Homo sapiens: one gene and its partner. The protein of the gene in region 1 purifies or fractionates together with the protein of each later gene. This does not show direct contact. Each region holds a gene or a part of one and is shown in the gene's direction. Other genes may lie near its edges.

The links. The genes of interacting proteins can lie anywhere in the genome.
Region 2: the proteins of BLVRB (region 1) and ACADM purify together in Homo sapiens (affinity purification with mass spectrometry; one large-scale study listed by BioGRID and IntAct). This does not show direct contact.

What each region holds. Positions count from the first base shown.
Region 1 is NC_000019.10:40,452,246-40,455,745, reverse strand, and holds part of BLVRB (flavin reductase (NADPH)), read left to right. Parts: intron 1-3,500. UniProt on the Homo sapiens protein: Enzyme that can both act as a NAD(P)H-dependent reductase and a S-nitroso-CoA-dependent nitrosyltransferase. Promotes fetal heme degradation during development.
Region 2 is NC_000001.11:75,727,709-75,731,208, forward strand, and holds part of ACADM (medium-chain specific acyl-CoA dehydrogenase, mitochondrial isoform a precursor), read left to right. Parts: intron 1-680; coding exon of another isoform or gene 681-692; coding exon 693-780; intron 781-3,500. UniProt on the Homo sapiens protein: Medium-chain specific acyl-CoA dehydrogenase is one of the acyl-CoA dehydrogenases that catalyze the first step of mitochondrial fatty acid beta-oxidation, an aerobic process breaking down fatty acids into acetyl-CoA and allowing the production of energy from fats.

The sequences.
Region 1 (3,500 bases):
TTTTGTTCTCCTAAACTATTTGGGTTTTTTGTTTGTTTGTTTTTATTTGAGACAGAGTCTCATTCTGTCACCCAGGCCGGAATACAGTGGCGTGATCTTGGCTCACTGCAACATCCACCTCCTGGGTTCAAGGGATTCTCCTGCCTCAGCCTCCTGAGTAGCTGGGATTACAGGTGCCTGCCACCACATCTGGTTAATTTTGTGTGTGTGTATTTTTAGTATAGATGGGGTTTCACCATATTGGGCAGGCTGGTCTGACCTCAAGTGATCTGGCCTCCCAAAGTGCTGGATTACAGGCATGAGCCACTGCGCCCAGACTTCCTAAACTATTTGAAATGGAGTTGCACACCCACAGACACCTTCGGCAAGTCCCAAGAAAAAGGACTTTTCTCTTCCAGCACCACAGTGCTATTGTCACACTTTAATTATCTTCCAGCCTCTAATTATTAGAGTTTAATCTTCCCTCCATATTCAAATGTCAAGGTAAAAGATTAGAAAGATTTTTGTCATCTAAGGAGCTTGGAGTTTATCCATTAGGGCTTGGGGAGGATTGTTTTTTATGGAGGCATCTGAGAGGATTAGAAAGAAACCCAGAGTAAGGCCAGGCACAGTGGCTCACGCCTGTAATCCTAGCACTTTGAGAGGCCAAGGTGGGCGGATTGCTTGCGTCCAGGAGTGCAGGACCAGTCTGGGCAACACAGCAAAACTCCATCTCTACAAAAAAAAAATACAAAAAATTAGCTGGGTGTGGTGGTACACACCTGTGGTCCCCAATACTTGGGAAGCTTAGGTAGGAGGATCCTTTGAGCCTAGAAGGCAGAGGTTGCAGTGAGCCGTGATGGCACCACTGCACTCCAGCCTTGGCTGCAGAGCAAGACCCTGTCTCAAAACACAACAAAACAGCCGGGTGCTGTGGCTCACGCCTGTAATCCCAGCACTTTGGGAGGCCAAGGTGGGTGGATCACGAGGTCAGGAGATTGAGACCATCCTGGCTAACACAGTGAAACACCGTCTCTACTAAAAATACAAAAAATTAGCCAGGCGTGGCGGCGGGTGCCTATAGTCCCAGCTACTCGGGAGGCTGAGGCAGGAGAATGGCGTAAACCCGGGAGGAGGAGCTTGCAGTGAGCTGAGATCGTGCCACTGCACTCCAGCCTGGGTGACAGAGCGAGACTGCCTCAAAAAAAAAAAGAAAAAAGAAACTAGGGGTAAGTTAGAGACTGGATTTGAGATTGTGAACTGGAGACTGGAGGCTGCAGACAAAAACCCACTTCACACTCTGCACCGCAGTTTTCTCATCTGTAAAGAGGAAATCCTAGACCAGGCGCAGTGGCTCACGCTGTAATCCCAGCACTTTAGGAGGCTAAGGCAGGTGGATCGCTTGAGGTCAGGAGTTCGAGACCAGCCTGGCCAACATGGTGAAACCCCGTCTCTACCAAAAATACAAAAACTAGCCAGGTGTGGTGGCACACGCCTGTAATCCCAGCTACTCAGGAGGCTTAGGCAGGAGAATCACTTGAAACTTGTAGGTGGAGGTTGCAGTGAGAATGATGTCATCATAGCTCGCTACCGCCTCCAACTCCTAGGCTCAAGGGATCCTCCTGAGTAGCTGAGACCACAGGCATGTGCCACCATGCCCATCTAATTTTTAAAATTTTTTTGTTGCGACAGAGTCTGGCTTTGTTGCCCAGGCTGGTCTCTGTGACACACCTTTTTATAACCACTAACATTACTCAAACTATTTATTTATTTCTTTTTGTTGAGACAAGGTCTTGCTCTGTTGTCCAGGCTGGAGTGCAGCGGTGCAATCACAGCTCACTGCAGCCTCGAACTCCTGAGCTCAAGCGATCCTCTCGCCTCAGCCTTCTAAGCAGCTAAGACCACAGGTCCCCACGCCTGGCTAATTTTTTAATTTTCTGTAGAGACAGGTCTCACCATCGTACCCAGGTGAGTCTAGAACTGCTGGGCTCAACTGATCCTCCTACCTCAGCCTCCCAAAGTGCTGGGATTACAGGTGTGAGCCACTCTGCCCAGCCTTTGAACAATTTATATCATCCCAGTTTGCACATGAGGAAACAAGAAGCTGGCCAGTGGTCGATCCAGTACTTGACTTTAGGCAAAACCCAAGCTCTTTAACTATTCACCAAACTGCTCCTAAAAATATTTAGCATAGTTCTTGGCTTGAGGTAAAAGTTCTATAAATGTCAGCTGGTGTAGCTTGGCCAAGTTATAGCTTGTTGAAAGCTAATTCCTGAACAAATATTTAGTAAGTACCTACAATGTTCCAGATGCTTCTAAGGGCTGGGATTGGAGCAGGAAATGTGATAGAGTCACAGGATAACTCTAGCGTGTGGTGGCAGGGGAAGGGTCCTAGGGAGAAAACAAGGCCCCAAGAAAAGGGATTGGTAAACTGGGCTGGGGGAGACAGGATTTTGCAATTTTAAACAGGACAGTCAAGAAAAGCTGCATGGAAAGGTGACCTTTGAGCAAAGTCTGCAAAGAAAACAGGGAGCCATGTGGCTACGAGAGGGAAATGGCAAAGGGTCCTGGGTCACACCTGTAATCGCAGCATTTTAGGAGGTCGAGATGGAAGGATCGCTTAAGCCCGGGAGTTCAAAACTAGCCTGGGCAACTTGGTAAGACCTCCATCGCTACAAAAAAAATGTTTTTTTCTTTTTCTTTTGAGACGGAGTCTTGCTCTGTCACCCAGGCTGGAGTGCAATGGCACGATCTCGGCTCACTGCAACCTCTGCCTCCCAGGTTCAAGGGATTCTCCTGCCTCAGCTTCCTGAGAATAGCTGGGATTACAGGCATGCACCACGACACCTGGCTAATTTTTGTGTTTTTTTTGTTTTGTTTTGTTTTGTTCTGCTTTGTTTTTGAGATGGAGTCTTGCTCTGTCTCCCAAGCTGGAGTGCCGTGGCGCGATCTCAGCTCACTGCAACCTCCGCCTCAAGGGTTCCAGCAATTCTCCAGCTTCAGCCTCCTGAGTAGCTAGGACTACAGGCATGCACCACCATGCCCAGCTAACTTTTGTATTTTTACTAGAGATGGGGTTTCACCATGTTGGCCAGGCTGGTCTCGAACTCCTAACCTCAGGCGATCTGGCCTCCTCAGTCTCCCAAAGTGCTGGGATTACAGGGGTTAGCCACCAGACCCGGCCTAAAAAAATTTTTTAAATTAGCCAGGCTTGGCCGGTATCATGCCATTGCACTGCAGCCTGGGTGGCAAGAGGGAAGGAAACTCTGTCTCAAAAAAAAAAAAAAATAGTGGGGTTTGGTGGCTCACCCCTGTGGTCCCAGCTCCTCAGGAGGCTAAGGCAGGAGGATCACTTCAGCCCAGAAAGTCAAGGCTGCAGTGAGCCGTGTTCACGCCACTGTCCTCCAGCCTGGACAACAGAATGAGACCCTGTCTCAGAGAAAATAAAAAAGAGAGGGAAATGCATCAGGGGCAGAGGAATCAGACATTGCCAAGGCTGGGAGGCAGAACCTGGCTGGAGC
Region 2 (3,500 bases), on another chromosome or scaffold:
AACGGATAGTACATGTTTTTGGCTTTGTGAACCAGATGGTCTCTGTGGTAACTACTTAGATCTGCTGTGAAAGCGGCAATAGACAGCATGATGTGGCTGCACTGGTTTGGTGACTCCTTGCTCAGAACATTGTAAGAATCCCTGTAGACAGCAGAAAATACAGAACATGGTTTTATGCTAATTTGTTTTGTTAGAGTGGGGTATCCTAAAAAATGAGATCCTCTGAGGGGAAGGTTTCCAGAGGCATGCATGGGAGGCTCACAGTGACAGGGTATCAAAGTTGATGGACTAGGCAACTCTTGAACACAGTATGTTCACTTCCAGCCTATCGTTCTCCCCACCCCAACTCTCCAACCATTAATGTCCTAGGAGCTTGTAAGATACCCAGAATAGTGGTCCTACATCTACTACTACCCTTGACTGTTGTTTGTCCTAAACCCTCCACTTCAGTAGTATAAATACCACTGACTTTATTTTCATTACTTTTTAAAAACATCTCCTCTGTAATAGGAATTTATATAACTGATAATTGGCTTATTTAAATTATGATTGAAGGCATTTAAATAGTGATGACTTTAAAAACTATGAGTATGGTCAAACCAGTTGCTGTACTCACTTATGATTATCAGTAGTCTCTTATCTGATTAATGTTTAACTTATCAAATTTATTTTAATAAAAGTGTTCTTTACAGGTCCTGAGAAGTATTTCTCGTTTTCATTGGAGATCACAGCATACAAAAGCCAATCGACAACGTGAACCAGGATTAGGATTTAGTTTTGGTATATGTTCGGTTCTATCTTTTGACTTTAAACTTATACATATGAAGCTTTATATGTTTTGTTTGGAATATGTTTGTAAATAAACTTAATAATGTCTTTCAATGAGTAGAACCAGTCCACTGTCCACAGATAATTTACAATAACTCACACTCCATTCTTCCTGATCTCATTTTCTTCCTCAGTATACTACACTGTACATTAGATCTGTTTTAGCAGCATACATACACTTAAATTCCTTCCTTTTTTTCTGAGTGTTTAGCCCAAAATAAATGAGATTTACTGATATATATGAATAGTCTTCAACTTACATATCTGAATGCCACAAATACATTTTAAAAACACTTGTTAGATTACAATTCTAGGTGCCTGGTAATAAGCTAAAGCTTGTTTTTGCTATAATATATCCAAATTGCAATTTTGGTACTATTAGATGAAGTTCTCACTCCTGGGACCAGGGAGCCATGATTTTTTTTCCTCTGCCCTCTATAAAATGAAAACTACACACAAAAAATTTGAAATAATATCTATCTTTGGCATTCTTGGCCTTCTAAAGTGCTTCTTCAAAATTTTTATTTTTTCTCTAGTTAAAAACCATTTACTCAATTTATTTGGTCTCAGAAAATAGTTAAAGGCAGCTGCGATAACTCACAGCTAGGTACAAATGACAATCTCAAAGCTCTCCAGAGTTATTTTTTTTATTATTTGTTGTGTTTTTTAAAGATTTTTCCCTTTTCTTTATAAAGGTTTTTTTTTTTCTTACCAGAATTTAATGAAATTTTTCTTTTCTTTTTCTTTCTTTCTTTTTTCTTTTTTTTTTTTTTTTTAAGATGAGGTTTCATTGTCTCATTATGTTGCCCAGGCCGATCTTGAACTCCTAGGCTCAAGCAGTCCTCTTATTTCAGCCTCCCAAAGTGCTGGGATTATAGGCATGAGCTACTGCACCCAGACCAAATGAAAAGTTTCTGTGTTTTTTTTTTTTTTCCTGTGACTTCTAGCCAAAGACTGGATGAAAATTTTCTCTTTTCTTTTTTTTGAGACAGAGTCTCACTCTGTCACCCAGGCTGGTGTGCAAGTGGCTCACTGCAACCTCTACCTCCCAGGATCAAGCGATTCTCCTGCCCCAGCCTCCTGAGTAGCTGGGACTACAGGTGTGGGTCATCATGCCTGGCTAATTTCTATATTTTTAGTAGGGATGGGGTTTTGCCACGTTGGCCAGGCTGGTCTCGAACAGCTGAAGACAAGTGATCCACCCACCTCTGCCTCCCAAAGTGCTGGGATTACAGGCATGAACCACTGTGCCCAACCTAAATGAAAATTTTTTTTCTTTTCTCTTTCTGTAGCCAAAGACTAAATGAAAGTTTTCAAGCACTGTGAGGATAGCCATTTGGGATGGTGGATTTTTTTTTTTTTTTTTTTTTTTTTTTGAGACTGAGTCTTGCTCTGTTGCTCAGGCTGGATTGCAGTAGCTCCATCTGGGCTCATTGCAACCTCTGCCTCCTGGGTTCAAGCGATTCTCCTGCCTCAGCCACCCAAGTAGCTGAGATTACAGGTGTGGGCCACCATACCTGGCTAATTTTTATATTATTAGTAGATATGAGGTTTCGCCATGTTGGCAACGCTGGTCTCGAACTCCTGGCCTCAAGTGATCCACCCGTCTTGTCCTCCCAAAGTGGGATTATGGGCATTAGCCAGCATGCCCAGCCAGGGTAGTGGATCATACTGAGATAATTAGCATTAATTTGGTATGATTGCTTGTCACTTTAAATTTCTCTCTCAGTAGTAAGAGACTTGCAGGAGAAATCTATGGTGGTTCACTGAGTGACAGAGGATGAGTTAGATATAATTGTTTGGGAGGGAGATTGTGAAGTTCAATACGGGTCTATTCCTTGAACCAGTTGCATCTGGTTCTTTATCTGTAAAGTGGAAATAATATCTATAACACAGAATTTCTATGAAGATTAAATTATATGCTGTATTTAAAGCCCCTAGCACTTAGTGACTGGATCAAAGTAGTTTCTCAATAAATAATACATAATACATACTTGTCATTTTTCCTTTTTTTTTTTTTTAAGAGACAGGGTTTCACTCTGTCACCCAAGCTGGATGCAACCTTGACCTCTGGGGCTCCATGGATTCTCTCGCCTCAGCTTCCTGAGCAGTTAGGACAATAGGTCCATGTCAACCACACCTAGCTGATTTTTTAAATTTTTAAATGTTTTGTTGAGACAGGATCTTGCTATATTGCTCAGGCTGGCCCCAAACTCCTGGCCTCAAATGGTTCACCTGCCTCAGCCTCCCAAAATTCTAGAATTATAGGCATGAGCTACCGTGCCCAGACTTTCTCTACCCTCTATCTACCTGCAAGATTGCTATCAACTGGCACCAATCTTAGAAGTAAAGCTGTGATAGAGAGAACACTGGACTGAAATTCTTAAGTATACTTCTGCTAATTCATTGTGAGACTGATACTAGAATTTCCTTACTCTGCATTAGTTTATCAATAAAAAGAGAGATTTGGCTGGGCGCAGTGGCTCGGGCCTGTAATCCCAGCACTTTGGGAGGCCGAGGTGGGCGGATCACGAGGTCAGAAGATCGAGATCCTGGTGAAACCCCGTCTCTACTAAAAATACAAAAAAAAAAATTAGCCGGGCGCGGTGGCAGGCACCTGTAGTCCCAGCTGCTCAGGAGGCTGAGACAGGAGAATGGCGTGAACCCGGGAG